Regions from separate parts of the Homo sapiens genome. Here regions 2, 3, 4, 5 and 6 are each linked to region 1. Evidence: fine-mapped expression QTL. A gene starts in region 1. Each other region holds a variant in brackets. All regions are shown on one strand. Distances are from middle to middle.

What was found. PIP is the estimated chance that this variant, and not a neighbour inherited with it, causes the effect. A credible set is the group of variants that fine-mapping cannot tell apart.
Region 2: its variant is the best candidate, but not a certain one, in a credible set for the expression of ZNF589 in whole blood (INTERVAL, PIP 0.57).
Region 3: its variant is the best candidate, but not a certain one, in a credible set for the expression of ZNF589 in blood mononuclear cells (TOPMed, PIP 0.87).
Region 4: its variant is the best candidate, but not a certain one, in a credible set for the expression of ZNF589 in fetal neocortex (Walker 2019, PIP 0.82).
Region 5: its variant is the best candidate, but not a certain one, in a credible set for the expression of ZNF589 in tibial nerve (GTEx, PIP 0.82).
Region 6: its variant is the best candidate, but not a certain one, in a credible set for the expression of ZNF589 in whole blood (INTERVAL, PIP 0.85).

Annotation. Positions count from the first base shown.
Region 1 is chr3:48,238,455-48,243,528 of GRCh38, forward strand. It overlaps ZNF589 (zinc finger protein 589), which reads left to right and starts at 2,650. Exons shown (of 4, transcript NM_016089.3): 1 at 2,650-2,760. The coding sequence starts at 2,718. RefSeq lists enhancers at 1,805-2,099, 2,417-3,334, 2,525-2,819.
Region 2 is chr3:48,309,542-48,314,615 of GRCh38, forward strand. SPINK8 (serine peptidase inhibitor Kazal type 8 (putative)) reads right to left here. Exons shown (of 8, transcript NM_001080525.3): 7 at 363-405. Among named protein-coding and RNA genes, the nearest start is that of MIR2115, 4.4 kb to the right of the region's middle. The variant A/G (reference allele first, on the strand shown) is at 2,261.
Region 3 is chr3:48,622,102-48,627,175 of GRCh38, forward strand. SLC26A6 (solute carrier family 26 member 6) reads right to left here. Exons shown (of 21, transcript NM_022911.3): 18 at 4,775-4,954; 19 at 4,530-4,584; 20 at 4,117-4,253; 21 at 3,622-3,899. The coding sequence ends at 3,885. Among named protein-coding and RNA genes, the nearest start is that of TMEM89, 2.9 kb to the left of the region's middle. The variant G/A (reference allele first, on the strand shown) is at 3,098.
Region 4 is chr3:48,166,108-48,171,181 of GRCh38, forward strand. It overlaps CDC25A (cell division cycle 25A), which reads right to left. Exons shown (of 15, transcript NM_001789.3): 10 at 1,739-1,837. Among named protein-coding and RNA genes, the nearest start is that of CDC25A, 20 kb to the right of the region's middle. The variant T/TA (reference allele first, on the strand shown) is at 2,074.
Region 5 is chr3:48,259,683-48,264,756 of GRCh38, forward strand. ZNF589 (zinc finger protein 589) reads left to right here. Exons shown (of 4, transcript NM_016089.3): 3 at 1,131-1,257. Among named protein-coding and RNA genes, the nearest start is that of ZNF589, 21 kb to the left of the region's middle. The variant A/G (reference allele first, on the strand shown) is at 2,497.
Region 6 is chr3:48,202,136-48,207,209 of GRCh38, forward strand. No RefSeq gene overlaps it. Among named protein-coding and RNA genes, the nearest start is that of MIR4443, 8.1 kb to the left of the region's middle. The variant G/A (reference allele first, on the strand shown) is at 3,054.

The DNA of each region.
Region 1 (5,074 bases):
GGTGCCACTGCACTCCAGCCTGGGCGACAGAGCAAGACTCCGTCTCAAAAAAAAAAAAAAAAAAAAGAGTAATTCATGCAGAGCCGGCTGTGCGGAAGACCAGAGTTTTATTATTACTCAAATCAGTTTCCTCAAAAACTCAGAGATCAAAATTTTTAAGGATAATTTGGTGGGAAGGGGGCCAGTGAATCAGGGTGCTGATTGGTTGGCTCGGGATGAAATCATAAGGAGTTGAAGCTGTTCTCTTAGGCTGAGTCAGTTCCTAGGTGGTGGCCACAAAACTGGTTGGCAGGTCCAGCTGGGGCCGTTCAGTTGTCAGAAATGCAAAAATCTGAAAAGACATCTCAAAAGGCCAATCTTAGGTTCACAATAGTGATGTTATCTTTAAGAGTAATTGAGGGCTGGGCGTGGTGGCTCACGCCTGGAATCCTACCACTTTGGGAGGCCAAGGTGGGCGGCTCACCTAGGTCAGGAGTTTGAGACCAGCCTGACCAACATGGAGAAACCCCGTCCTTACTAAAAATACAAAATTAGCCGGGCGTGGTGGCGCATGCCTGTAATTCCAGTTACTCCGGAGGCCGAGGCAGGATAATTGCTTGAACTCGGGAGGAGGAGGTTGCAGTGAGCCGAGATCGCACCATTGCACTCCAGCCTGGGCTCAAAAAAAAAAAAAAAAAAAAACCAACCTTGGCCGGGCGCGGTGGCTCACGCCTGTAATCCCAGCACTTTGGGAGGCCGAGGCGGGTGGATCATGAGGTCAGGAGATCGAGACCATCCTGGCTAACAAGGTGAAACCCCGTCTCTACTAAAAATACAAAAAATTAGCCGGGCGCGGTGGCGGGCGCCTGTAGTCCCAGCTACTGGGGAGGCTGAGGCAGGAGAATGGCGTGAACCCGGGAAGCGGAGCTTGCAGTGAGCCGAGATTGCGCCACTGCAGTCCGCAGTCCGGCCTGGGCGACAGAGCGAGACTCCGTCTCAAAAAAAAAAAAAAAAAAAAAAAAAAAACCAACCAAAAAAAAAAAGAATCCAAAAATATTAGCGGGGTATGGTGGTGCGTGCTTGTAATCCCGGCTACTCAGGAGGTTGAGGCAGGAGAATCGCTTGAACCCAGGAGAGGGAGGTTGCAGTGAGCCGAGATGGCACCACTGCACTCCAGCATGGTAGACAGAGTGAGACTCCGTGTTCTTTTCCCTAAAAAAAAAAAAAGAGTAATTGGGGAAGTTGTGCTTCAAAAGAGTAATTGGGGAAGTTGTGCGTCTTAGGGCCTCTGGAATAATGGCTGGTAATATTTAGAATTCCAGCCCTTCTCATCCTAATTTGGTGGCTGGTGGCCTTTCATTCATTTTACAAGAACAGTTTAGCCCTTGGGAAGGGCTATTATTTAAGCTATAAACTGAATTCCTTCCCAAGGCTACTTTGGCCTATGCCCAGAAGTGGACAAAGACAGTTTAGAGGTTGAAAGGAAGATGAGGTGGGTTAGATCTGATATCTTTTACTGTCATTGATAAGGCTCTGATGACTGGAGGAACACCAGGGTCCTTGGTCTCTGATAGGCTTAATAACACAGACACACGTGGAGTGGTTTTAAGGAGCGAAAAGTTTAATAGGCAAGAAAGAAGGAAGGAAGACGAAAACAGCTCCCCCATACAGAGACAGAGGGAGCGGGGATTCCAACAAAGAGAAAGCGCCGTGTGCGGAAAAGTGGCTGCTTATCTGAGGATGCTGGAGGAGGCGGTGTCTGGTTTCCATAGGGCTCAGGGGATTAGTTTGATCAGATGTGTCATTTATGTGGCAGCCAAAAACCTGGCCCTCCCACCCTAGCTTTTTAATATGCAAATGTAGGGCTCCATGAAGTTCTACACACGTGGGAATATGTGGGGGGTGGCCATGTTGCCAGGCACATGTCAGGGCAAAGAAAAGGACGGCGGGAATCGCCATGTTTGGGTGCGTCCAGTTTCTAATGGCCTGTATTTCCATATCAAAGCTTGCCATCCTGCTCTAGGAGCCCAGGCTTTCCTGCTAGACAAGAAACCTTTCTGGAGCTGCTTTAAAAGAAACAAAAACTTCCCAAGGACCCCTTTCCTTCTCTATCTGCTTAAAATAATTTCTTAATAACTCCTATAACATCATAATTTCCTTAGGTATAATTTTGCAAAGGCGGTTTCAAAAGCTCTTTGGGGTCCTCAGTAATTTTTAAGAGTGTAAAAGGATTTTAACAACAACAAGTTTGCGAACCACTGTCCTTGAGAAGCTCTCCATGGATGCGCATGAGTCTGTCCAATTGGAGTCCTGGTGTATTTCTACATTAGATACCACACAGCAGTGAACACACAATGAACAGGTCAACACGTGTCATTATAGAACTGCGCAAAAGAGCTAGTAGCAGGCATTGTAAGTGTATTTATATAATGTTTACAACCATGGAAAACAACACTATATTTTGCTTATGGGTACCTGTGGTAAGCACAACCCCAAATATTGCGGCCGAGGGGGACCTAGAAGGTCAAAGTGCGCCTCAGCATTTTCTCTCGCCCTGCACAAGCCGCATTTCGCCCCGAGAACTACGCTTCCCGGCAGGCTGCGCGCCGCGCGGTGACGCACTTCACCCAGTCCTGCTTCTTTCTTCTGGCGCCGCCAGTGGCCCGCGGTGCGCATTCTAATCCGTTTCACACACGGTGCTGCTACCTCGTTTGCTTCGTGCGTGCGTGCGCGCGCAGATGTGGGCCCCGCGGGAGCAGCTACTGGGCTGGACTGCGGAAGGTGAGTCGGGGCCGCGAGATCGCCTCCCCCATTCGGTGCTCCAGCCGCAGGCGCCGCGCAGGCGTCGGCCGTATCCACCAGGGATGCGCGTGGGGTGCGAGCTGTGTGAGGCGCTGACTACCCCTACAGCGGCTCTTACTCCCCTGGGGGGCCAGGTTCCTCCCTAGGTGTCCCGTACAGTCTCCACGGTGCTCACTCCACGACTCTTCACCGGGCATCCTGCACTTGTGCACTCCGGCAGTCATTGGCCATAAATGGCTGCTGAGCATTTGAGATGTGTGGAGTGCAACTGAAGAACAGCATTTTGTATTATTATATTATATCATATTTATTTTGAGACGGAGTCTCGCTCTGTCGCCCAGGCTGGAGTGCAGTGGCGCGATCTCCGTTCACTGCAATCTCCGTCTCCCGGGTTCAAGCAGTTCTCTGCCTCAGCCTGCCGAGCAGCTGGGATTACAGGCGCCCTCCACCACGCCTGGCTAATTTTTGTATTTTTAGTAGAGACGGGGATTTCACCATGTTGGCCAGGCTGGTTTTGAACTCCAGACCTCGTGATCCGCCCACCTCGGCCTCCCAAAGTGCTGGGATTACAGGCGTGAGCCACCGCGCCCGGAGTATATTATATTTTTATATTTTTTGAGTCGGTCCGGAGTGCAGTGGCGGGATCTAGGCTCACTGCAGCCTCCGCTTTCCCAGGCTCAAGTGATTCTCGTGCCTCAGCTTCCGGAGTAGCTGGGATTACAGGCGGCGCCTCACCACCCCGGCTGTTGTATTTTTAGTAGAGAGGGGATTTCGCCATATTTGCCAGGCTGGTCTCGAACTCCTGGCCTCAAGCAATCCACCCACCTTGGCCTCCCACAATGTTGGGATTACAGGTGTTAGCCACCCCACCCGGCCCAAAAGACTTTTTTTTTGGAGACAGAGTCTTGCTCTGTAGCCCAGGCTGGAGTGCAGTGGGCGATCTCTGCTCACTGCAACCTCTTTCTCCCAGGTTCCAGCGATTCTCCTGCCTCAGCCTACCAAGCGGCTGGAATTACAGGGACACGCCACCACGCCCGGCTATTTTTTTGTATTTTTAGTAGAGGCGGGGTTTCATCATGTTGGCCAGGCCGGTCTTGAACTCCTGACCCCAGATGATCCACCTGCCTCGGCCTCCCAAAGTGTTGGGATTACAGGTGGGAGCTACCACACCCGGCCCCAAATGACTTTGGATGTAACAACAGGAACAGTCTAGAACAGGGCTGGGCAAATTTTTTTCTGTTTGGTTTTTTTAGAAACAGGGTCTCCCTATGTTGCCCAGGCTGGTCTCCAACTCCTGGGCTCAAGGGATCCTCCCGCCTCGGTCTCCCAAAGTGCTAGGATTATAGGCGTGAGCCACTGCACCTGGTCTTGCAAACGTTTTCTTTTAAGGGCCAGGTGGTAAATGTTTCAGGCTTTGTAGGCCACACGGTCTTTGTTACGACTAGTGGTCTGCTGTTGTGTGAAAGCAGCCAAAGACCATAGGTAAACGAATGAGCATTGCCGTGTTCCAATAAAACTTTCTTTATAGACATTGAAATTTGAATTTTGGCTGAGTGCAGTGGCTCACGCCTGTAATCCCAGCACTTTGGGAGGCCAAGGCAGGAGGATCTCTTGAGCCCAGGAGTTCAAGACCAGCCTGGTCAACATGGCAACACCCCATCTCTACTTTAAAAATAAAATAAAATAAAATAAGCTGGGTGTGGTGCCGTACACCTGTAATCCCAGCTACTCTGAGGCTGAGGCGCAAGAATTGCTTGAACCTTGGAGGCAGAGGTTTCAGTGAGCCGAGATCGCATGACTGCACTCCAGCTTGGGTAACAGAATGAGACTCTAAAAAAAAAAAAGGAAATTTGAATTTCATATATAATTTTCATTATTATGAAATATTCTGTTTCTGATTTTTTTTTCAGCCAATTAAAAATGTAAAAACTGGCCCAGCATGGTGGCTCACGCCTGTAATCCCAGCACTTTGGAAGGCTGAGGCTAGGATCACTTGAGCCCAGAAGTTTGAGACCAGCCTGGGCAACATAGTGAGACTTCATCTTTGTGTTAAAATTTTTTTTTTCTGAAGTAAAGACTATTCTTAGCCTTTGGGTGGTATAACAACAGGTGGCAGGCTGGATTTGGCTTGTGTGTAGTTTGCCAAGCCATTGTTCAGCATGTAGCTGTTTGTCCTGTGTGGGAGCCCTTGTGCCTCCTTCCATCCACTCTTTGAGGGTGGTGGGCTTTGTCTCTGCCTACTGTGCCAAGACCAGTTCAATTGGATAGCAAAGCTAAAGAAAGTAAAGACAAT
Region 2 (5,074 bases), 71 kb after region 1:
GTATTAGAAGATGACAATGAAATAATTAGTTGTAATAAGACCTTCTGAGTATGTAAGGAAATGTCCAAACTTATTAGAGAGGAACTCTGAAGTATGTAGGAGTGAATAACATGATGTCTGAGACCTGTTTTAATATACTTCATCAAAGAAAACAGAGAAATAAAAGAATAGAGGGAGGAAATGTGGCAAAACATTACAATTTATTGAATACACATGATAGGCTTATGGGATCTATTATTGGCTCTACTTTTATGTATGTTTGAAAATGTTCATAACAAAACATTTAAAACCCTCTAAAACAGTGAGCTCTTAACTTATCTAGTTTACTTCTAAAAATAAAAAATAAAAGTGTCTTTACTTACACATTGTCCATCATACAGTTTAGTTATGTTAAGCCCTTCAAATCTGAAAGAAATTATATTTTAAAATTATTTTTGCTGTATGGTATATCATAAATTCTGACTAAATTTTACTTGATAATCTTTGGCTAAGTTTGGGAAATAAACATTCTGCTAATAATGAATTCTTGGCAAATATTTAAAAATTCTACTATATGAATTTTTATTTGTCAAAGACATTGAGTATAGAAAACATACTCAGTCTACAATAAAATACAGAAATTCAAAATAGCCTTTGAAAATTCAAGTAGAAATACAGAGGATTAGAAAAAGAATGTGTCTTAAAGTTAAAATATGCATTTAATGAAAGCTGAAACATCGCTACTGACCTTACAGAAACAAAGGATTAAAAGAGAATACTATGAACAATTGTATGTCAATAGATTAGATATTCTGGATGAAATGAACAAATTCCTAGAAACACACAAATTATCAAAACTTAATAAGAAATAAAAAGTCTCAACAGACCTATGACAAGTAAAGATACTGAATCAGTAATAAAAAATGTCCCGACAAACACCAGATGGCTTTAGTACTGAATTCTACCAAAAAAAAAATTTTTTTTTTTTTTTTTTGAGACAGAGTTTTGCTCTTGTTGCCCAGGCTGGAGTGCAGTGGCACGATCTCAGCTCACTGCAACCTCTGCCTCCTGGGTTCAAGCAATTCTCCTGCCTCAGCCTTCCAAGTAGCTGGGATTACAGGCATGCGCCACCAGGCCCAGCTAATTTTTTGTATTTTTAGTAGAGACTGGGTTTCATCATGTAGGCCAGGCTGGTCTTGAACTCCTGACCTCAGGTGATCCACCCGCTTCGGCCTCCCAAAGTGCAGGGATTACAGGCATGAGCCACTGCACCTGGCCTACCAAATATTTTTAAAAGATTTAGTACCAATCTTTCTTAAACTCTTCCAAACAATACAAGAGGAGGGAACACTTGCTACTTCATTCTATGAGGACAGCATTACCATGTTATCAAAGACAGACAAAGACATCACATAAAGGAAAACTATAGACCAATATCCCTTGTGAATACAGATGCAAAGATTCTCAGAAAAATACCAACAAATTGAATACAACCACATATTAAAAGGATTATACACCATGACAAAATGGCCTTTATCCCAAGAATTCAGAGCGTTTCAAAAAAAAAATCAGCCAATTTAATAATATCACATTAATAGAATGACAGAAAAACACTGCATGATAATACTAATTGATTCAAAACATACACACATAATATTCAACAAAATCCAACACCATTTCATAATAAAACACCCAGAAAACTAGGAATAGAAGAGAACTTCTTCAACACGATAAAGAACACTTATGAAAAACCCATAGCTAATATCGTACTCAATGGTGAAAGACTGAAAGACCTGTATAAGATCAGGAACAAGACATGAATACCTGCTTTCACCACTGAGATTCAACATTGGACTGGAAATTCTAGGCGAGCAATTAGGCAAGAAAAAGAAATAAAAGGCATCCAAATTGGAAAGGAAGAAGTAAAATGATCTCTATTCAAAGATGATATGATTCTATATGTAGAAAATCCCAAATAATTAATATAAAAATGACTAAAGCTAATAAATTCAGCAAGTTGCAGAGTACAAGATTAACAAACAAAAATCAGTTGTGTTTCTATAACTATAAATCAGCAATGAACAATTTCAAAATAAAATTAAGAAAACAATTCAGTTTACAACAGCATCCAAAAAAGAAAATACTTAGTAAGAATCCTGGAGGTGAAAGACTTGTACACTCAAAACTACAAAATTGAAACTGCTGAAAATAAATAAAGAAGGCCTAAATAAATGAATGACATCCCATGCTCACTGACTGGAAGAATTAATTTAAGATGACA[A/G]TACTTCCCAAAGCAATCTACAGATTCAATGAAATCCTTATCAAAATTCCAGTGGCCTTTATATTTTGTGGAAATAGAAAAGCCAATCTTGAAATTCATATAGAATTGCAAAGGGCCCTGAGTTGCCAAAATCATCTTGAAAAAGAAACAAAATTGGAAAACTCCAAATGTCCAATTTCAAAAACTTACTATAACACTACAATAATCTTGCAGTGTCAGCTACTTGGGAGGCTGAGGCAGGAGGATTGTGTGGGCCTGGGAGTTCAAGACTGCAGTGAGCTATGACCACACCACTGCTCTCCAACCTGGGAGATGCAGTAAGACCCTGTCTCCAAAAAAAAAAAAAAAGTATAATAATCAGTGGTACTGGTACTGGTATTAGGATATAAATACAGAACAAAAGAAAAGAATCAAGGATCCAAAAATAAACTCATATATCTATGGCCAATTGATTTTCAACAAGGGTACCAAGGCCATTCAATGGGGGAAGAGGATAGTTTCTTCAACAAATAAAGCTGGGACAACTGGATAACCACATGCAAAAGAATAACATTAGACAGGGTGGGCATGGTGGCTGATACCTATAATCCCAGCACTTTGGGAGGCTGAGTCAGGCAGATGACCTGAGGTCAAGAATTTGAGACCAGCCTGGCCAACATGGTGAAACCCAATCTCTATTAAAAATACAAAAATTACCCAGGCTTGGTGGTGGGCACCTGTAATCCCAGCCACTGGGGATGCTGAGGCAGGAGAATTGCTTGAACCCAGGAGGTGGAGGTTGCAGTGAACCAAGATCGTGCCACTTCACTCCAGCTTGGGTGACAAAGTGAGACCCTGTCTCAAAAAGAAAAAAGAAAAAAGTTAGACCTCTATCTCACACCATATATAAAATTTAATTCAAAAATGGATCAATGGGGCCGGGCGTGGTGGCTCACGCCTGTAATCCCAGCACTTTGGGAGGCCGAGGTAGGGGGATCACAAGGTCAGAAGTTCGAGACCAGCCTGGCCAGCATGGTGAAACCCCGTCTCCACTAAAAATACAAAAAATTAGCTGGGCGTGGTGGTGCACACCTGTAGTCCCAGCTACTCCGGAGGCTGAGGCAGGAGAATTGCTTGAACCTGGGAGGCAGAGGTTGCAGTGAGCTGAAATCATGCCACTGCACTCCAGCCTGGGAACAGAGTCAGACTCTGTCTCAAAAAAAAAAAAAGATCAATGGGCTAAAACTACTAAACTCTTAGAAGAAAAATTAGAGGTAAATCTTTATGCCTTTGGATTTTACAGTGGTTTTTTGGGTGTAATAGCAAACGTAAGAACAACAAAAGAAAAAATAGATAAATTGATGTCATCAAAATTAAAAACTTTGTGCATCAAAGGACATTATCATGAAAGTAAAAGGCAACCTATAGAATCGGGGGAGAAATATTTGAAAATCATAGTATTTAGTATTCAAAATATATAAAGAATTCTTACAACTAAAACATAAAGACAACACAATTTTTAAAAATGGGCAAAGGACTTGAGTAGATATTTCTCCAAAAAAGTATATGGATAGCCAAAAAGTACATAAGAAGATGTCCAACCTCATTAGTCATTAGAGAAATGTAAATGAAAACTTGATGAGATACCATTTTCACACCCACAAGGATGGATATAATAATATTTTTAAAAAGTACTAGCAAGGATGTGAAGAAATTGGAACTCTCATATTTCTGGAAGAATGTAAAATGGTTCAGCCCCTATAGAAAAGTTTGATGGTTCCTCAAAAAGTTAAACACAGAATTACCATATAACTCAGCAAATTCCACCCCTAGGTATATAACCAGAAGGCTGAAAACAGGTACTCAAATAAATACTTGTACACAAATGTCTATAAGAGCACTCTTCACAATAGTTAGACATGGAAACAACCCAAATTTCCTTCAATGAATAAATAAAAAAATTGTGGTATATACACATAATGGAAAACTATTCAGTAATACAAAAAGAAATGAAGATATATGCCACACTGTGGATGAACCTCAAAATGATTATGTAAGTGAAAGAAGCCAGACACAAAAGATCATAGGTTGTATAATTCCAGTTATGTGAAATATACAGAATAGTAAATCTGTAAAAACAGAAAGTCTATTGCTAGTTGCCAGGAACTGTGGGGAGGAGGGAATGGGAAGTTAACTGCTTAATGGACATGAGGTTTTATTCTGGAGTGACAAAAATGTTTTGAAAGTAATAAAGGTGGCAGTTTTATAACATTGTAAATGTACTAAATGCTACCAATTTGTTCACTTTAAAATGGTTCATTTTATGTCATATGAATTTTACCTCAATCTTTAAAAATATGCATTTGCACCCATTTATAGTTATAAGAACTTTGATAAGTTGCTCCCCTCAGGTCTCAGTGTCTTCATTCAAAAGTGAGCCCTTTTGCTTGGACAGTGAAAATGGAGAAGTAAGAATCTTTAAAATTTCCTCCACGAAAGCAACAAGAACACTGGCAAAAATGGTCAGAATCAAGTTTTCCAGAATTCTGGGAATTAAAAAAAAAAAAATCAAACCATGCAGCAATCCAAGGAACATCTATTGAAGAAAAATTGCTGCTTCTCAGTAAGAATAGTGAGTTTCATGGCATTTTATCTTGCTCTGGACCCATCTGCAGCATTCCCAGTTCCATGGTAGTAATGAAAAACAACCACCCACAATCATAGTGAAAACCAGCAGCCTGGCAGCATCTGGAGGGAGAAGACTGGTGTTGGAATGCCTTCAATGCACCATTACCAGAGAATTGTCATTATTTGACCTGTCTGGGTGGTTCTCTG
Region 3 (5,074 bases), 380 kb after region 1:
GAGACCAGCCTGGGCATCACGGCAAAACCCCATCTCCATAAAAAATACAAATAATTAGCTGGGTATAGTGGCACATGCCTGTTGTCCCAGCTACCCAGGAGGCTGAAGTGGGAGGATCACCTAAGCCTGGGAGGTCAAGACTGCAATGAGCTGTGATTGCACCACTGCACTCCAGCCTGGGCAACAGAGTGAGATTTTTTCTCAAAAAAGATAAAAAAAGAAACTAAGTCCCAAACAGTTAAAGAAACCAGTAACTAACAGAAATTCTTTTTTTTTTTTTGAGACAGAGTCTTGCTCTGTCGCCCAGGCTGGAGTGCAGTGGCACGATCTCCGCTCACCGCAAGCTCTGCCTCCCGGGTTCACGCCATTCTCCTGCCTCAGCCTCCTGAGTAGCTGGGACTACAGGCGCCCGCCACCTCGCCCGGCTAATTTTTTGTATTTTTAGTAGAGACGGGGTTTCACCGTGTTAGCCAGGATGGTCTCAATCTTCTGACCTCGTGATCCACCTGCCTCGGCCTCCCAAAGTGCTGGGATTACAGGCGTGAGCCACCGCACCCGACCTTACAAACTTTTTTTTTTTTTTTAACTAGGCTGGGCACCATGGCTCAGGCCTGTAATCCCAGCACTTTGGGAGGCCAAGGCAGATGGATCACCCGAGGTCGGGGGCTCGAGACCAGCCTGACCAACATGGAGACCTGCCTCTACTAAAATAGCCAGGCGTGGTGGTTCATGCCTGTAATCCCAGCTACTCAGCAGGCCGAGGCAGGGGAATCACTTGAACCTGGAAGGTGGAGGTTGTGGTGAGCCGAGATCGCGCCATTGCATTCCAGCCTGGGCAACAACAGCAAAACTCCATCTCAAAAAAAAGAAAAAGGCCGGCTGTGGTGGCTCACACTTGTAATCCCAGCACTTCAGGAAGCTGAGGTGGGTGGATCACGACATCAGGAAATTGAGACCATCCTGGCTAACATGGTGAAACCCCGTCTCTACTAAAAATACAAAAAAAAAAAAAAATTAGCTGGGCGTGCTGGCACACCCCTGTAGTCCCAGCTACTTGGGAAGCTGAGGCAGGAGAATCACTTAAACCCGGGAGGCAGAGTTTGCAGTGAGTTGAGATCATGTCACTGCACTCTGGCCTGGGCGACAGAGCGAGACTCCATCTCAAAATACAAACAAACAAAAACTAGCTGGGGCTGGGTGCGGTGGCTCACCCCTGTAATCCCAACACTTTGGGAGGCCAAGGCAGGAGGATCACTTGAGGTCAGGAGTTCAAAACCAGCCTGGCCAATATGGTGAAACTTCGTCTCTACAAAAATACAAAAATTAGCTGGACATGATGGTGGGTGCCTGTAATCCCAGCTATTCAGGAGGCTGAGGTGGGAGAATCACTTGGACCCAGGAGGTGGAGGTTGCAGTGAGCCAAGATCGTACCATTGCACTCCAGCCTGGGCGACAGAGCGAGACTCCGTCTTGGGTGGGGGGAGGTGGGGGAACTAGCTGGGTGTGGTGGCATGTACCTGTAGTCCCAGCTACTTAGGAGGCTGAGGCAGGAAGATCGCTTGAGCCCAGGAGGTCAATGCTGTAGTGAGTGGTGATCACAGCACTGCACTCCAGCCCGGGGAACAGAGCAAGAGCCGATTTAAAAAGAAAAAAAAAAAAAATCCACACGGCCCCTAAAACCTTTTGCTTTCCACCAGGGGCATCACCTCTCTAGGCTGACCAAACTCGCAGGTCCCCCACACCCAACCGCAGCCCCACAGTCCACATCGCAGTTGGGTGAGTGCTCAAAGATGTGGGATCAAAATCCACAGGCAGCTCCCCCGCTGTCAGAACAAAGCCCAAAGTCTCCCCCTGGACTGTGAGGTCCCCCCACCCTCTCACCTCAGCTCATGCTGCCCCTGCCTCCCACAGGCCTGCCTCAATACCCCCACTGCCAGCACCACAGCTCCCCAGGCCTAGAAAGTCACCTTCTTTCTTATGGCTGGAATTTCAGTTCCAGGGTCACCTGCTGAGTCCCCCTCCCATGAGCATCTTGGGTAACATATGACCTCTTCTATCACGTGACCCTGCTTTATTTTCTTCAAAGCATTTCTAACTACCTGCAATTTCCTGTTTGAGGTCTAAACTGCCCTCTCCAACATATAAGCTTCATTCAAACAATATTTACTGAGCAGCTGCCAGGCACCATTTCTGATGCTAGGACGTGGTGTGACAGAGTAAATAAAAGCTCTTATTTCCTGGGGCTGAACTTCTAGGCCATGAGTTGGGGGGTGGGGGGTGATGGTGCCAGGCACCAATACAGACCATGATAAAACAGAGCCAGGCAAGGGTACCTCTGCGATTTGAAGGGCAGGGTGGCCTCTGTCCATGCTCAGGATGGTGCCCAGACCCCTGCACAGAGCCTGGCACCTGCTCAGCACCTGATGAACAGCAGTGCTCGCATGTTTGGAGGAGAGGACCTGAGCCCAGCATTGTTTTCGCATTTCCTGGCATTTCCTCATTTATTTTTGAGACAGGGTCTTGCTCTGTCACACGAGCTGGAGTGCAGCTCCCTCCAGCATGATTTCAGCTCACTGCAACCTCCGCCTCTTGGGTTCAATTGATCCTCCCACCTCAGCCTTCCCAGTAGCTGGGATTACAGGCGTCCAGCACCATGCCCAGCTCATTTTTGTATTTTTAGTAGAGATGGGGTTTCACCTGCCTCGGGCCTCCCAAAGTGCTGGGATTATAGGCCCGGCATCTACTCATTTAATATTCACTGAGCAACCCCTGAAGCAAGAATTGTAGCCACTCACGCTCTACCGATGAACAGCACACTGAGGCCCAGACAGATCCTAAGACCCGGTCCCTCCCCTGCCATCACTGTCAGCTGACCCAACGCCCCACTGCCTGCTGGGTCACATGCCCAGATGTCGGCATTTAATGGCAGAAATCAACACACACTCCTTGGCTGACAGTGTTCTACCATGCCCAGGTGATCTGTCACCCATGCGGGGCATGATCTGGGCTCATTGCAACCTCTGCCTCCCAAGTTCAAGCGATTCTCATGCCTCAGCTTCCCGAGTAGCTGGGATTACAGGCATGTATCACCACGCCC[G/A]ACTAACTTTTGTATTTTTAGTAGAGGTGGGATTTCACCATGTTGGCCAGGATGTTCTTGAACTCCTGATGTCAAGTGATCCACCTGCCTCTGCTTCCCAAAGTGCTGGGATTACAGGTGTGAACCACCGTGCCCGGCCCGGTCATGCTTATTCTTAAGCATAGAGCAGCAGTGTGGGGGAACAGCTGCTCCTAGGTGTTCACTCTGTATCCTCCAGGGACTGCCCATTGGCACCCACGCTGCCCTGTACCTTCTCGGGTATTCCTGAGAGCAAATTATTCCTGAGAAGCAGCTCTGGTTCCAACTGTTTCACATCTGAGGAGACAGCGAGTGAGGGCTATGCATGGCTGGGGAGAGACCTTAACAGGGGATGCCTCCACAGCTCCCCTGCTCTGTACCCTAACCTCCCGAGTCCTTCCTACACCTTCTGCCCCGTCTCACCTTCAGGGCACAGGAAGGGTCAGCAGCCACAGCTGTGGACCACCCACCACCAGGGCCCCACCAAGCCACAGCAGAGACTGGAGTTGAGCAGACAAATCTTTATTCCTGAGGCTAAAATATGCACCAGTTCCCTCCCTGTACCGCGCCACTGCCAGCCTGACTGCATGCAGGCCCTGTCCCAGACCTGGAGCGCTGAACTTGGAGTCCCAGGACCTCCTTCCCTGAGTTGTGTGTGTGTACATGGAGGGGACTCCTGGGTAGCACCTGGAGGCGGCCTAGGGGTGAGGGGCTTCTCAAGGGTGCCCTGCACCTCCAGAGGTGCAGTCTTGGGCAGGATGTAGCATGTTCAGAGTCTGGTGACCTGAGCAGGCAGAGGAGGGGAGGCTCTAGTCAGTTTCCAAAGGACACAGACCAACCCCCGCCCCTAGAACAGCTTTATCCAAAGACAGCGGAGAAAGCACTGGGCCCACTGGGGACAGAGCCATGGCCACCAGGAAAGACTCCCTGGAGCTGGGGCCAGGGTGGGGACAAGCAATAGATTAACAAAAAAGAGCTTGGCAGGCCAGAGGTAGGCTCACCGAAACAGGGCTGTCGGGGACAGGCCTCGGGTGTTGGAGGGCAAAGGTGACAGCATCATGGACAGAGGCAAAGAGATGCTTCTTGGTGATGGATGCATCGAAGAAGTGCCCAGCCTCAAGCTGGCTGACCACAGGGCCTGTGGGCAAGAAGTAGGCCTCCCCTGACTCTCAGAACCTCTAGGAACTCAACTCCCGGGAGCCAACAGAATGCCCTGACCTCATCACCCCTGACCTCCACCCCTGAGGCTACAGCTGAATCCACATCACTTGTAACCCTGGACTCCTGTCTCCCAGGACACCTCTGACCTCCAGTTCCAGAGAAAGACTTTTTCCTTGTGCTACTTGGAAAACCCCTTGGCCAAAAGTATCCTACCCTCTTCCCAGGTCCCTCCTGCTGTTCCCACCCTACTCACTGTGGCAGGCCGCCATGTACACCTCCACCTCAATCTCCCGGAAGTCATGGAAAATCTGTAGCGGAAAAGGGGGCCAGCCTCAGAGGGAGGCTCAGGGACTCAGAGGGGGGCTCGGGCAGGCTTGGGGAGGGAGTTTAGAAGGGGAGCTTTGAGGGTTTGGGGAGTCAGAGGCTGGGAGTGCTCTCAGGGCAAATTACAGGGTCAGTGTGGAAGCTCGAGGGGCCTTGGCCTGCCCCCGTCCTTACATTCTTCAGGCTCTTGAGGCACACAGTGTCCACAAAGGAGAGGGCACCCAGGTCCAGGATGAGGCTGTGGAAGTCTGGCTGAGGCAGGCCCAGGGCCTTCAGTGTGGACCCATCTGGGGCCTTGGAGTCTTCTTGACCATTGGCTGTTGCATCTTCCATCTTATCTCCTGAGCTCACCTGCTGGGGAGCCAGACATGCTGCCAGGGCCACCCATGAGAGAGTGAAGGCAGGACTGGCCGCACACAGACACGCGAGAACACGCAAGGTCAGATGGGGAGCATGCATGGGACACATAAGGAC
Region 4 (5,074 bases), 72 kb before region 1:
AACCCCAACTCTTTTAAAAATACAAAAATTAGCCGGGCGTTAGCATGCACCTATAGTCCCAGCTACTCGGAAGGCTGGAGTGGGAAAATCGCTTGAATCCAGGAGGCGGAGGTTGCAGTGAGCTGAGATTGCACCACTGCACTCCAGCCTGGGTGACAGAGCAAGACTCCCTCTCAAAAAACAAACAAACAAACAAGCAAACAAACATTAGTTAGTACACACTAGTTACTCTTCTAGTTACTTCATTAACATCCTGACATTTAATTTTCACACAAACCAATGAGGTATATTATCCCCATTTTGAGCACCTTATCCAAGGTTACCTAGCTAGTAAGGCAGATTTAAATAAAGAAACCTCAGGTAATCTCATTTTCCTCCTGCTTTTGTCAAGAATCCACACGTCAGTAGTTAGACTGCGAATAGCACTTAAACATACAGATTTCACTCATTTACTGAGCACCTGCTATGTCCAGCATGGTGCCAGGCACTGGGGATAGGAAAAAAAGAGACCTAGCCCAGCCTTGAGGAGGAAGATGCACACATTAGCAATTACTCATTAGGGTGACTGGCTGAGCCAAGAGTTCATCTATCCCCATGCATAGGCCCATTAAGACAAATATAACCAGGCCTCAATTCAAGTTGAAAATTCCACTGAGTGTGGTGGTGCATGCCTGTAGTCCCAGCTACTTGGGAGGCTGAGGCAGGGGGAGCACTTGAGGCCATAAGTTTGAGGCTACAGTGTACTATGATAGCATGTGCGAATAGCCACTGCACTACAGCCTGAGCAACATAGTAAGACCACATCTCTCCCTGCCAAACAAGAGAAGGTTCCAAAACTGAGGATACAGCTGGATCTTTGCTTGTTCTCTTCATTCTCCGTTCCTTCAAAACCCATTTGGGCTGAAATATCAACGGCCCAACCCCAGACGTTCCCCAACCCCCTAGCCAAGATAAACCCTTTTACTTCTCACGGCATGCTGTTTATGTTTACACCTCACTAAAATTTATTTCAGTCTACCATGTGGTACATGTAGTTCACGTCTCACCTCTCCAACCACATGCTAAATTCTTTGAGGGAAGGAACTGTATCTCATTTTGGAATCTCTGCCTAACACATAAGTGCTTCAATAAATGTTAACTAAATTAATGAATAAAACATTGATCTGGTAACCTTCAAGTCAAAATGTGATTAAAGAAGCTGCTATTGACACATTCCCTGTCCTAGCCTTGTATTTTACTGCAGCCAAGCCTTCATGTAGTATATCAGGCTATTAGAAGATCTTCCTCTAGACTTCCTGGAGGGTCTTTTCCCTCAATGGCCAAGCTTCTCTGAACGGAGAAATTCAGTCTCAATCCCAGACCTTCTAAGATAACCTTTCAACATGCAGACTTGTAGTGTGGCTACAGATTTATTTCTGCTGTACACTATCCTGCTAATTACTATTTTTATAATAACACAGTTCCCAGAGAGCCTAGTCTTTGGGTTACAATCAAGGTGGTTGGTGGACAGCTCCCTACCTAAAACTGCCCATCAGCTATAGTGATATCTACAGTCTCAGAAACCAACATATACCTGATCATGAGAAACTAAGTTTGCTTCCCTACCTTTAACATTCTTTTAACTGTGTCCTTTTGGAGGTATGCCAGGAACCACCCTGGGGAGGGAGACAGGCTGAGTGGGATTCTAAATACCCACACTCCCTCCTACACTTGCCAGAGCAGCTCTGCTTGCAATTACCTTGGAGAAGTCTCCTATAAGGTCCCTTGGGTCATTGTCCAAAATGTTCTCAATGGTTCCTTTGGGGGAAGATGCCAGGGATAAAGACTGATGAAGAGTCTGTAACAAATCAAAGGTAGAGAATGAGACAAGGGTTCTGAATGGAACTTCCGAAAACATTCACTTGGAGCATGTCTCGAGGAGACTAAAATGTTAATGCCTACATTTAGTAAGAAGTTTTTATTTTATTTTATTGAATCTGGAGTGAACAAAAACAGATGTGGGTTATTGACTAGGTCTCCTATTATTCCAGTGTCTAACCGAATTGCTCTGAAACTAAGTTTTCCTTCCTTCCT[T/TA]AAAAAAAAAAAAAAAAAAAGGGGGTGCAGGTGGTTTGGCTCATGCCTGTAATCCCAGCACTTTGGGAGGCCAAGGTGGGTTACTCACTTGAGCCCAGGAGTTCCAGACCAGCCTGGGCAAGGCAGGTGAATCGCTTGAGCCCAGGAGTTCCAGACCAGATCAAAGAGCAAGACCCTGTCCACACACACACACACACACACACACACACACACACACACACACACACAAGCTGGGCATGGTGGTGTGTGCCTGTAGTCCCAGCTACTTGGGAGGCTGAAGTGGGAGGATCACCTGAGCCTGGGGAGGTCGAGGCTACAGCAAGTGGTGATGGTGCCACTGCACTCCAGCCTGGGTGACAGACTGAAACTATCTCCAGAAAAAGAGAAAGAAACAAGGGGGGTTAAAACTAGGATTAAGTTTAGAAAAAGTATGTCTTAACTTTTTTTTTTTTTTTTTTTTAAAAAGACAGAGTCTCGCTCTGTCGCTCAGGCTGGAGTGCAGTGGAGTACAGGAGTGGAGTGCAGGCTGGAGTACAGTGATCTTGGCTCACTGTAACCTCTGCCTCCCAGGTTCAAGCGATTCTGCCGCAGCCTCCAGAGCAGCTGAGACTATAGGTGTGCGCCACCACGCCCAGCTAATTTTTGTATTTTTAGTAGAGACGGGGTTTCACCATGTTGGCCAGATGGTCTTGAACTCCTGGCCTCAGGTGATCTGCCTGCCTTGGCCTCCCAAAGTGCTGGGATTACAGGTGTGAGCCACCGCGCCCGGCCTACGTCTTAGCTTTATTCAATGAGAAGAGGAAGCCAGCTGTTAAAAAGGGGATAATTTGAGTAAAAGGATAATACTTGTAATACACAGAAACACATTAAATGTTTTAACCCATGAATTCCTGATTATTATTGAAAAACAACTATAAGTCTTGCTTTCAACTTTGGAAGATGCTTGGTAGGGCATTATTTGGAAACTGGCAAATAAAGAGATCCAATATTCATCCTGCCTTTCCCAAGGGTAACCACAGTGTTTGATGAGTGTAAGTTTCTCTTTATAGATATATTCTAGCTAATTAATGAGGAAAGAATGTAAAAACTGCAGTATCATCTTTCTGAAACCCTGGTGAAATGAAGTAAAAAATCTGGGCAGCAATCACCAATGGCTGCCTGGCACATTATACTTCCTGATCAAAGTAGACAAAATCACCTATGTGATATTCTTGCCAAACAAATAGAACTGGAATTCAATCCATCCTTTCCAGAGTTAGGTTAAGGCAATATAGGGGATAGAAGACAATGTCTGAAGACCCCACAGGACTGTGGGAACCTTTGCAGGACAAATGACTTGAGCTCTTCAACAAATAAAAATATGCAAGAGGGAAACAGATGGAGCACTGAAATCTGAAGAGTAAGAGACCTATTGACCAACTACAGTGTATAGACTTTATTTGGATCCAGATTTTAACAAATAAACTGTAAAAGTACTTAGGAGACAACTGGGGAAAACTGAACCCAGACTGGATATTTGACATTTGATAGTAAGAAATTTAGCTCTGCCGGGCGTGGTGGCTCATGCCTGTAATCCCAGCACTTTGGGAGGCCGAGGTGAGTGGATCACTTGATGTCAGGGGTTCGAGACCAGCCTTGCCAACATGGTGAAACCCCGTCTCTACTAAAAATATAAAAAATTAGCCAGGCGTGGTGGTGGGCGCCTGTAGTCCCAGCTACTTGGGAGGCTGAGGCGGGAGAATTGCTGGAACCTGAGAGGCGGAGGTTGCAGTGAGCAGAGATCGACCCATGGCACTCCAGTCTGGGCGACAGAGCGAGACTTGGTCTCAAAAAAAAAAACAAACAAAAAAACACCCAGAAATTTAGCCCTGTATGATATGTTTGTGTGAGGAAAACACCCCACAAACTCAAAGTGATTTTTCTTATTCCCTCACTCAACAGCAACAGAAGACAGAAGTGCTGTTACCCCCAGATATGAGGGGATTTCTCCCTACCAGCAAGCAAGCAAGCAAGCAAGCAGTTCTGCAGTGGAAAATAGCTGGGTGCCGTCCAATTCAATTCTGACACTATCTACCTGCAGAGCGTCAGATCAGGAAGTTGAGGGCCCAGTCCTCAAAACCACACCACCCTTCAGACACCAGTTGGGCCTCTGGATCTTCTGATCTACGACCACCAGCTTTAAGTAGGGGTTCCCATGACCCCTTCTTTGGGTTTAATTTGCTAGAAGTGGCTCACAGAACTCAAGAAAACACATTTACCAGTTTATTATGAAGGATATTCAAAGGATATAGAAGAAGACATGCATAGGGTGAGGTATGGGAGAAGGGACATGGAGCTGCCATGCTCTCCTTGGGTGCCCCAACCTCCAGGAACCTCCATGTGTTCAGCTATCCAGAAGCTCTCTGAACCCTGTCCTTTCAAGGTTTTAGGGAGGCTTCATTACATAGAAATGATTGATTAAACCATTGGCCATGAGTGATCAACTTGACCTTTAGCCCCTCTCCTTTCCGTAGATATTGGAGGGTGGGGCTGAAAGTTCCAACCTCTAATCATGTCTCTGTCTTTCCAGTGACCAGTCCCACCCTGAAGCTATCAATCATTAGTATACAAAAAGATATGACCTTGGATATTCCAAAGATTTTAGGAGTTATATGACAGAAGGGGAAGAAGACTAAATATATATTTCACAATATCACAGGTATGATAACTGTACTCTAGCAATGCTTGACATTTTCTCCACAATGGAATTTAAAATACTAAAAATTAAAATATATGAAAATAAACCAAAACATGAGGGCCAATATATATACAAAATAATTATTAACAGTATTATTTTATCCAAAAAAAGTTTTACAAATATGGAAATAAAAAGGTCAATCTCTATTACGGTAAAAGAAAATGAATATTCTGGCCGGGCACAGTGGCTCACACCTGTAACCCCAGCACTTTGGGAGGCCAAGGCGGATATATCACCTGAGGTCAGGAGTTCAAGACCAGCCTG
Region 5 (5,074 bases), 21 kb after region 1:
GGCAGATCACTTGAGGTCGGGAATTGGAGACTAGCCTGGCCAACATGGTGAAATCCCATCGCTACTAAAAACAAAATACAAAAAAAATTAGCCAGGTGTGGTGGTATGCACCTGTGGTCCCAGCTACTTGGGAGGCTGAGGCAGGAGAATTGCTTGAACCCGGTAGGCAGGGGCTGCAGTGAGCCAAGATCACGCCACTGCAGTTCGGCCTGGGTGACAGAGTGAGACTCCGTATCAAAAAAAAAAAAAAAAAAATCTAGGGCAAGTTAGGAGTGTCATGGAATACCCATAGGCTGAAGCAGTTGGTCACTGAGCAAATAATGCTTGAATTCAGTAGAAGTTGATTGGTGACTCCCTTGGTATCTGAGGGCAATGCCACCTTTCAAGTGTAACTAAAGATAGAACACCACTGAATACTCATTTAGAAGAGAAGAGACTTGAAGATGAAAAAGCATATGGTGTATGTTTTTTTGAGACAGGGTCTCGCTCTGGTCACCCAGGCTGGAGTGCAATGGTGCGATCTCAGCTCACTGTAGCCCTGACCTCCTGGGATCAGGCAATCCTCCTACCTCAGCCTCCTGGGTAGCTGGAACTACAGGTGCACACCACCATACTTGGCTAATTTTTGTTTATTTTTCATAGAGACAGGGTCTCACTGTGTTGCTCAGGCTAGTCTTGAACTCTTGGGCTCAAGCAATCCTCTCATGTCAGCCTCCCAAGTAGCAGATCCATTTTTTTCTTTTTGAGGCGGAGTCTCACTCTGTCACCCACGCTGGAGTGCAATGGAGTGATCTTGGTTTACTGCCACCTCTGCCTCTCAGGTTCAAGTGATTCTCCTGCCTCAGCCTCCCAAGTAGCTGGGACTACAGGCGTGTGCTACCACGCCCAGCTAATTTTTGTATTTTTAGTGGAGACAGCGTTTCACCATATTGGCCAGTCTGGTCTCGAACTCCTGACCTCAAGATAACCTCCCACCTCGGCCTCCCAAAGTGCTAGGATTGCAGGTGTGAGCCACCGTGCCCGGCCTAGATCAATTTCTTATGTAGCTAGATGCTCCAAGACCACCAGTTCCATTTTCACTGTGAATCTTAATGGTGACTTGATGAATATGAATTTATCGGTTGATTTAGGGACCAGTGACTTTCGAGGATGTGGCTGTGCTTTTCACTGAGGCAGAGTGGAAGAGACTGAGCCTTGAGCAGAGGAACCTATACAAAGAAGTGATGCTGGAAAATCTCAGGAATCTGGTCTCATTGGGTAAGGACATGTTCTCTTCCTTCATTTTTCCATTCAAGTATTTACTGACCATATTCAGTGTGCCAGCCAATGTTTTAATCTCTTAGAACATATCAGTGAATAGAATAATAAAGCATTTCTTCTCTCGTGGAGCTTATATTCTAGTATAGGTAGACTGACAATATACAATAAGCAGCATATATAGGTAAATTATATATGTCAAAGGATAATAAGTGCTACATAGCTAAAAAAAAATGTATAAGATATATATAAATATAAGTAGAGTAGATTAAGGGAGATCTGAAGTGCCGGGTGTGGAGGCAACTGGCTGAACTTTTAAATTGCATGATCAAGGTAGGCCTCTATGAGGAAGTACATTTGAGCAAAGGCTTGAAGGAGGTGAGGAGGTTGGATATGTGGGTCAGGTGGGAAACTGCTCCAGACAAGGGGAAAGCAGTGCCAAGGCCCTGGAGGCAGGAGCATATCTAGTCCTTTGGAGGAAAAGCAAGGAGGCCAAGGTGGTTGGAGTACAGAGAACAAGGAGGAGAATAGTAAGAGATGCCTTCTATGACCTAGAAGTTGGAAATGTTTAACGTTTAAGGTATAAATCTGTCAGTTTGATGTTTTATAGATTACTGGATATCATACATCATGTTTTTATTCACTTATTTAAAAACTAAAACTGATTACTAGGTTAGCAAATACAAAATTATTCTGGATATTCCTGAGTTCTTGATGAGAGTCAGATTTTCAAAGTTCCTCACATTTCTCTCAGCATCTTTCTCAAGGTTTGTCTTCATCTGGCATAGCTATGAATTACATAGTTCTGATTTGTTCTCTTTGCATCTGCTTAGACCTATTTTGCACTGCTTTAATCTAATTTGAATTGGCCTCATTTCAATCCTAGTTGCCTATTTCTGTTTCAGTGTAGGTTCATCCATTTAAGTTAGCTTTCAATTGGCCAATCTGATTTGGTCTTGTTTCATCTGGTCTTGTTACTCTTTATCTTTATGCTCATACATTTTGTTGATTCTGAAGAATATGTTAAAATTGCCTTAAAATAATCTGATTCAAATTAATCTTGACCCTGAAACTTTGGATCTCACTGTATCCATTTCAGGTGTTAAACTGTTTTCATCCTTGATCCATCTTTCCCTTTCTCTCTACATCACTTTTTCTCTTATTGCTGAATTATTTAAAGCAAATCTCAAATATCATGACATACCACTCCTTTATATCACAGTGCAACTCCAATAAATA[A/G]GGACATTTTATTTTATTTATTTTTTTTGAGATGGAGTTTCATTCTCATTGCCCAAGCTGGAGTGCAGTGATGCGATCTTGGCTCACTGCAACCTTTACCTTCTGGGTTCAAGTGATTCTCCTGCCTCAGCCTCCCGAGTAGCTGGGATTACAGGCGCGCATCACCACAGCCGGCTAATTTTTTGTATTTTTAGTAGAAACGGGGTTTCACCATGTTAGCCAGTCTGGTCTCGAACTCCTGACCTCAGGTGATCTGCCCGCCTCAGCCTCCCAAAGTGCTGGGATTACAGGTATGAGCCACTGTGCCCGGCTTCACATTTTCTTATATAACCACAGTATCATGATCAGAACTCACAAAGTTATCAGTAGTGCTTCAGTATCATCCAACACCTAGTCCATGTTCAAATTTACCTGATCATCTCAAAAAAGTTTTTTTGCAAATTTGAATCAGGATTCAGATGAGATCCACACATTCCATCTTCTAAAAACTTCTCTTAATTTATATCAATTCCTTCTCTCTCTCCTTCTTTTTTTCTTCCCTGTAGCCCACGGATTTGTTTGTAATGTTCTGACTCTAGAATATAAATCTATTTTAGATAATATCGTAATTTTTGCATGGTAGGTTGTAAATCAAGAGAAAATAGTTTTGAGCTTTACCAAGAGGTGTTCACCAATATGAAAAAAAAATACATCACTCATGGCAGTGCTGGTTGTGGTGTTTGAGTAACCGCTTGCGTAGCACACTTAGGTCTGTCACCACTAGAACACATGTAGTCATCAATAAGGCATATCCATGTGTGTCTGCATTTGTAGCTATCATGTCCACAATGATCTTCCTGTAAGCACTTGATTGCTCTGGTATGTCTCATAATGTAGCCTTGTCAAGAGATTACATATTGAAATGAATATTTTTATTGTAAATTACTTTCTTTTTTTCTTTTTTTTTTTGAGACGGAGTTTTGCTCTTGTTGCCCAGGCTGGAGTGCAATGGTGCAATCTCAGCTCACTGCAACCTCTGCCTCCCTGGTTCAAGTGATTCTCCTGCCTCAGCCTCCTGAGTAGCTGGGATTACAGGCACGTGCCACCACGCCCAGCAAATTTTTTTATTTTTAGTGGAGACAGGATTTCACCATGTTGGTCAGGCTGGTCTCAAACTACTGACCTCAGATGATCCGCCTGCCTCCGCCTCCCAAAGTGTTGGGATTACCGGCGTGAGCCGCCACGCCCGGCTCCTTTCTTTTTTATGTTTCGGATAGGGCATTACATTATTAAAACATTCTGCAGCTGGGTGCGGTGGCTCATGCCTGTAATCCCAGCACTTTGGGAGGCCAAGGCGGGCAGATCATGAGGTCAGGAGTTCAAGACAAGCCTGGCCAACATGGTGTAACTTTGCCTCTACTAAAAATACAAAACAAAAACAAAAACAAAAAAACAGGCCGGCATGGTGATGTGCACCTGTAATCCCAGCTACGCAGGAGGCTGAGGGAGGAGAATCGCTTGAACCCCGGAGGCGGAGGTTGCAGTGAGCTGAAATTGCGCCACTGCACTCCAACCTGGGCAACAGAGCAAGACTCCATCTTGGAGAGAAAAAAAACACAAAACATTATGAGTACATTTAATTAAATATGAATTTTGTTTCAGGACAGTAAGTGAGATGTTACAAAATATAGGTTATAAAAAGGAGGCTTTTGTTCTGACAGTATTAGAGAACATCTTCTGCCTAACCCTCTAGTCCTTTTTTAATTAACTTGGCTCCTATCACTCATTTACTCAAAAGTATGTATTGACTATTAAACACTGGGTCTAGTTCTGCATTCTTAGAATATACCAGTGATATGTATGGGAGAAGGGTTCTGTAGACATAGAAACCAGCCAGTGTACATCATCAGGAGGGGAGGACAGTGTGGCTCAGATGGAGCAAATGAAGGCTGGAGAATAGGTTGAGTCAAAGAAGCAGTAGGTGGAACCCAGTGGGCCCTCTAAGCAGCTTGGCTTTTACTCTGAACATTATGGACTTTCTTTTTTTTAAGTTGAAGGGTCTTGTTTATTAGAAATGTAGAATAAAGAAGGAAGAGGCCGGGCATGGTGGCTCACACTTGTAATCCCAGCACACTGGGAGGCCGAGGCAGGCAGATCATGAGGTCAGGATTTCGAGACCGGCATGACCAACATGGTGAAACCCTGTCCCTACTAAAAATACAAAAGTTAGCTGGGCGAGGTGGCACGTGCCTGTAATCCCAGCTACTCAGGAGTCTGAGGCAGGAGAATCACTTGAACTTGGGAGGCGGAAGTTGCAATGAGGCAAGATCGCACCACTGCACTCCAGCCTGGGTGACAGAGCAAGACTATGTCTAAAAAAAAATAAAAAGGCCGGGCGCGGTGGCTCACACCTGTAATCCTTGCTCTTTGGGAGGCTGAGGCGGGTGGATTGCCTGAGCTCAGGAGTTCGAGACCAGCCTGGGCAACATGGTGAAACCCCGTCACTACTAAAAATACAAAAATTAGCTGGGCATGGTGGCACACGCCTGTAGTCCCAGCTACTTGGGAGGCTGAGGCAAAAGAATTGCTTGAACCTGGG
Region 6 (5,074 bases), 36 kb before region 1:
TAGCCGGGCGTGGTGGCGCATGCCTGTAATCCCAGCTACTTGGGAGGCTGACGCAGGAGAATCGCTTGAACCCGGGAGGCAGAGGTTGCAGTGAACCGAGATCGCGCCATTGCACTCAAGCCTGGGCAACAAGCATGAAACTCCGTCTCAAAAAAAAAAAAACAAAAGGCCGGGCGCGGTGGCTCACGCCTGTAATCCCAGCACTTTGGGAGGCCGAGGCGGGTGGATCACGAGGTCAGGAGATCGAGACCATCCTGGCTAACATGGTGAAACCGCGTCTCTACTAAATGTACAAAAAATTAGCCGGGCGCAGTGGCGGGTGCCTGTAGTCCCAGCTACTCGGGAGGCTGAGGCAGGAGAATGGTGTGAACTCGGGAGACGGAGCTTGCAGTGAGCCGAGATCGCACCACTGCACTCCAGCCTGGGCGACAGAGCCAGACTCCGTCTCAAAAAAAAAAAAAAAAAAAAAAAAAAAAAAAAAAACAAAAAAAACAAAAAAAAAACCTTGTTGATAAAACGGGTTGCAGTAAAGAAGCCGGCTAAATTCCACCAAAACCAAGATGGCCACGAGAGTGACCTCTGGTCATTTTCACTGCTACACTCCCACCAGCTCCATGACAGTTTACAAATGCCATGGCATTGTCAGGAAGTTACCCTATATGGTCTAAAAAGGGGAGGCATAAATAATCCACCCCTCACTTAGTATATCATCAAGAAATAACCATAACAATGGGCAACCAGCAACCCTCAGGACTGCTCTGTCAACGGAGTAGCCATTCTTTTACTCCTTTACTTTCCTAATGAACTTGCCTTTGCTTTGCTCTGTGGACTTGTCCTGAATTCTTTCTTGTGCGATATCCAAGAACCCTCTTTTGGGATCTGAATCGGGACCCCTTTCCTGTAGCATCTTTCTGGCGACTATGAAGGGACTATAGTGTGGAAATCCCCAACCCAAAGGCTAACTGTGTAAGTGGTGGGGTCTGGTAACATCTTTCTGATGAATCCTGAAAGGACAATATTGAAGAAACCACCTGCCCCAAAGGAAATGGACTGCAGGACTAATTGGTGGACTTTGGGTAAGTGGGATGCCTATATCCGGGTAAAGAATGGGATTGGGTTAGAGGCCCAATTTAGGGGACTTAGAGTCTCTCCTAAGTCAGAGTGGGTTAGAGGCCCCTTTCTTAATAAAAGGCAGGAGGCCAGGTGCGGTGGCTTATGGCTATAATCCCAGTACTTTGGGAGGCTGAGGTGGGTGGATCACCTGAGGTCAGGAGTTCAAGACCAGCCTGACCAACATGGCAAAACCCCATCTCTACTAAAAATACAAGTAACTGGGTGTGGTGGTGCAAGGCTGTAATCTCAGCTACTCAAGAGCCTGAGGCAAGAGAATCACTTGAACCCAGGAGGTGGAGGTTGCAGGGAGCCGAGATCATGCCACTGTACTCCAGCCTGGGCAACAAAGTGAGACTCCGTCTCAAAAATAAATAAATAAATAAAAATAAAAGGCAAGAATGCTTGACTGACCTTGGGTTAGAGGCCCAACTTAGAAGGGTTAGAGTCCCTTTAAGATTTAGGGAGTTGGAGGCTACTCTCAGTAAACTCCCTTTCAGCTAAGAACAGGTTTAGCATTACAGGATGTTAACTGCTATTCTCTTTGGATTGATCTGCCTTGCACTCTTTGCTGTTGGTCAGGCTGGTCTTGAACTCCCGACCTCAGGTGATCTGCCCGACTCAGCCTCCCAAAGTGCTGGGATTACAAGTGTGAGCCACTGGTCCTGGCCATGATGATCTGCTCTTTAACAAAAATTTGTAAAGGGCTATAAAAGGTTTATGAAAATCTTACCTTATGGTCAAACTGACTAAGATTAAAATATATTTGTCTATAAGGTTTTATTAAGAATTGGGTTTGCTGGGTGTGGTGGCTCATGGTCTGTAATTCCAGCACTTTGGGAGGCCAAGGCGGGCAGATCACGAGGTCAGGAGTTCAAGACCAGCGTGGCCAATATGGTGAAACCCCATTTCTACTAAAAATACAAAAATTAGCCAGGCATGGTGGCAGGCACCTATAATCCCAGCTACTTGGGAGGGTGAGGCAGGAGAATCGCTTGAACCCGGGAGGCAGAGGTTGCAGTGAGCCGAGATTGCGCCACTGCACTCCAGCCTGGTGACAGAGCAAGACTCCGTCTCAAAAAAAAAAAAGAAAGAAAAATTGGGTTTGACATCAATAATGCATTAATGCAACAGTAACATTTGGCTTATTTGGTTTAAAAGTCATACAAGGCCGGGCGCAGTGGCTCACACCTGTAATCCCAACACTTTGGGAGGCCGAAGCAGGCAGATCACCTAAGGTTGGACGTTTGAGACCAGCCTGGCCAACATGGAGAAACCCCATCTCTACTAAAAATACAAAAATGAGCTGGGCGTGGTGCCGCATGCCTCTAATCCCAGCTACTCAGGAGGCTGAGGCAGGAGAATTGCTTGAACCCAGGAGGTGGAGGTTGTGGTGAGCTGAGATCATACCATTGCACTCCAGCCTGGGCAACAAGAGCGAAACTCCGTCTCAAAAAAAAAAGTCATACAAAAGCATTGTCAAATATAAAATGGCGTTTGGTTTTCTTTGGGCTGTATTTGTATAAATATGTTATTGGTATGTGTTCCCAAATTATGGAATACTCCTATAATTCTGATATGGCTTAGTGTTTGTTATTAATAATTATAATTGTTACATAAAATCATTATATGCCACAGAGGTAACCAAATTTCTTTTTTTTTTGAGACGGAGTCTCGCTCTGTCCCCTGGCTGGAGTGCAGTGGTGTGATCTTGGCTCACTGCAACCTCCCCACAGGTTCCAGTGATTCTCCTGCCTCAGCCTCCCGAGTAGCTGGGACTACAGGTACCTACCACCACGCCCAACTAATTTTTGTATTTTTAGTAGAGATGGGGTTTCACCATGTTGGCCGGATGGTCTCGATCTCCTGACCTCATGGTCCACCCAACTTGGCCTCCCAAAGTGCTGGGATTACAGGCATGAGCCACTAAGCCCTGCCTGTCA[G/A]TTGTGTTTTTTTGTTTTGTTTTGTTGTTGTTGTTGTTTTGAGATGGAGTCTCTCCCTGTTGCCCAGGCGTGACACGATCTCAGCTCACTGATTCTATGCCTGCATGGGTTCCAAGGGCACTGGGCTGGAGAGGAGGGCACAGGCCAGCTCTCCAAGTTCCCAGTTGCCCGCTAGGTTCGGGTAGCTGGGGGTGCTCCTAATTCTGCAGCAGGCAGAAGGAGCACTGGCATGGGGTTGAACCCCAGCATGGCCACGCCCCACCTGGGGCTTTGCCAAGCCCTTTTCTCCTTGTTCTCTGAGGGCCTCAGTTACCCCTTCTGGACAATGGAAAGTTGCAATAGTCAGTGTTGTTGGTCACACGCTTGAATGTATGGGTTTAGAGCTCTTTCTTAATTTCTTTTTTTTTTTTTTTTGAGACAGAGTCTCGCTGTGTCGCCCAGGCTGAAGTGCAGTGGCGCGATCTCGGCTCACTGCAAGCTCCACCTCCCGGGTTCACACCATTCTCCTGCCTCAGCCTCCCAAGTAGCTGGGACTACAGGCTCCTGCCACCATGCCTGGCTAAGTTTTTTTATTTTTTAGTAGAGATGGGGTTTCATCGTCTTAGCTAGGATGGTCTCGATCTCCTGACCTTGTGATCTGCCCACCTCGGCCTCCCAAAGTGCTGGGATTGAAGGCGTGAGCCACTGCGCCCAGCCCTTAATTTCTTAAAGAAGACTTTACCAAACCAATAAATAAAGTCTTAAGTGCATGTTGTTATGTTTCCCAGATGATTTAAATCTCTGTGATTTGAGGAATTCCTGAAGCCACTTCTTGAACTCCTTCCTGCTATGACTGTTTTCTGGTGCTGGTGGCAGAGCTATGGCCATGTGACCTGTGCGGTCATACAGGGCCCCTGCACTCAGAAGGGCCCTGTACTTAGTTCAATGCTCTGTTTCTGAGGTCTTGAAATTCTTTATGATTTTTGAACAAAGGGCCCCACATTTTCATTTTGCATTGGGTGCTGCAAATTATGTAGCCAGTCCTGGCAATAGTGGCTCCACACTCCCAACAACACAGGAAGGGGCTCCTGGAGGCCATTCTATGAGGAACGTATTTCCCTCCATACTTGCCCAGAGTCTCCTTGGAGTCTTTGTTCCTGGTCTTAAGCAGCCAGAGGAGCAGGGGTACAGCCTGGAGGGGAAGGAAGAGAGTTGGAGGTAGCACAGGGCAGAAGGGCACCCCTAGTCCAGCCTGTCAATGCCCAGAGTTCAGCAGATTGAAAAGCTGAATCCCCAGCACCTCTTGCCGCACTAGACTATAGGAGAGACACAGGGCTGGTCAGGGTGGTGTTTGGTGGGCTCAAGACAGAAGGGGACAGGGAGCACAGTTGAGAGAAATAGGAGGCCCCAGATCAGACCAAGAGAAACTGTGAACTGGAGCCAGAGGTCTGAGTCCTGCCACCAGCCATGACTTAGCCAAGACCTGCCTCTCAAGGCAACTCTCCCACCTGGCTCTGGACCTCAGTTTCTTCCCTTGCCAAATGGGGCTGATGGTTACCCCTGCCCTGTCCTTCCAGGAGTGCTGTGAGCTCAAAGGAGGTGGACACACAGGAGCCCTTTGTATCTTAGAGGACCACACACACAGGTCACATCCCTGGACTCAAGTGGCCAGACTCCATAGACACTATGGCCACGGTGCGGCTGGGAGGAGGCACACAACATAATTTCCATTGGCTCCATTTCCCCAGCCACACCCCTCTCAGGGGTCCCAGTTTGAACTCAGATCCAGGTGGCACCTGGCCCAAGGCTCCCTGCATGGTATTGTTACCACGACAACCCCAGAAATTAGTGTTGGGGCTTTTCCTTTGGTGACAGGATGGGTCCCAGAGGCCCTACACAATACTGTTGCTGTAGGCAAGTTTGCTGGGAGATAACTCATTTCAGTGGGGCTGCCCTTGCCCATATAGGTGACCACCGTGGCAGGGGCTCCTTGCCCAATGGAGAGAGCCCCCTGCTTCACCAGCTGTAGGGACAGCAAGTGT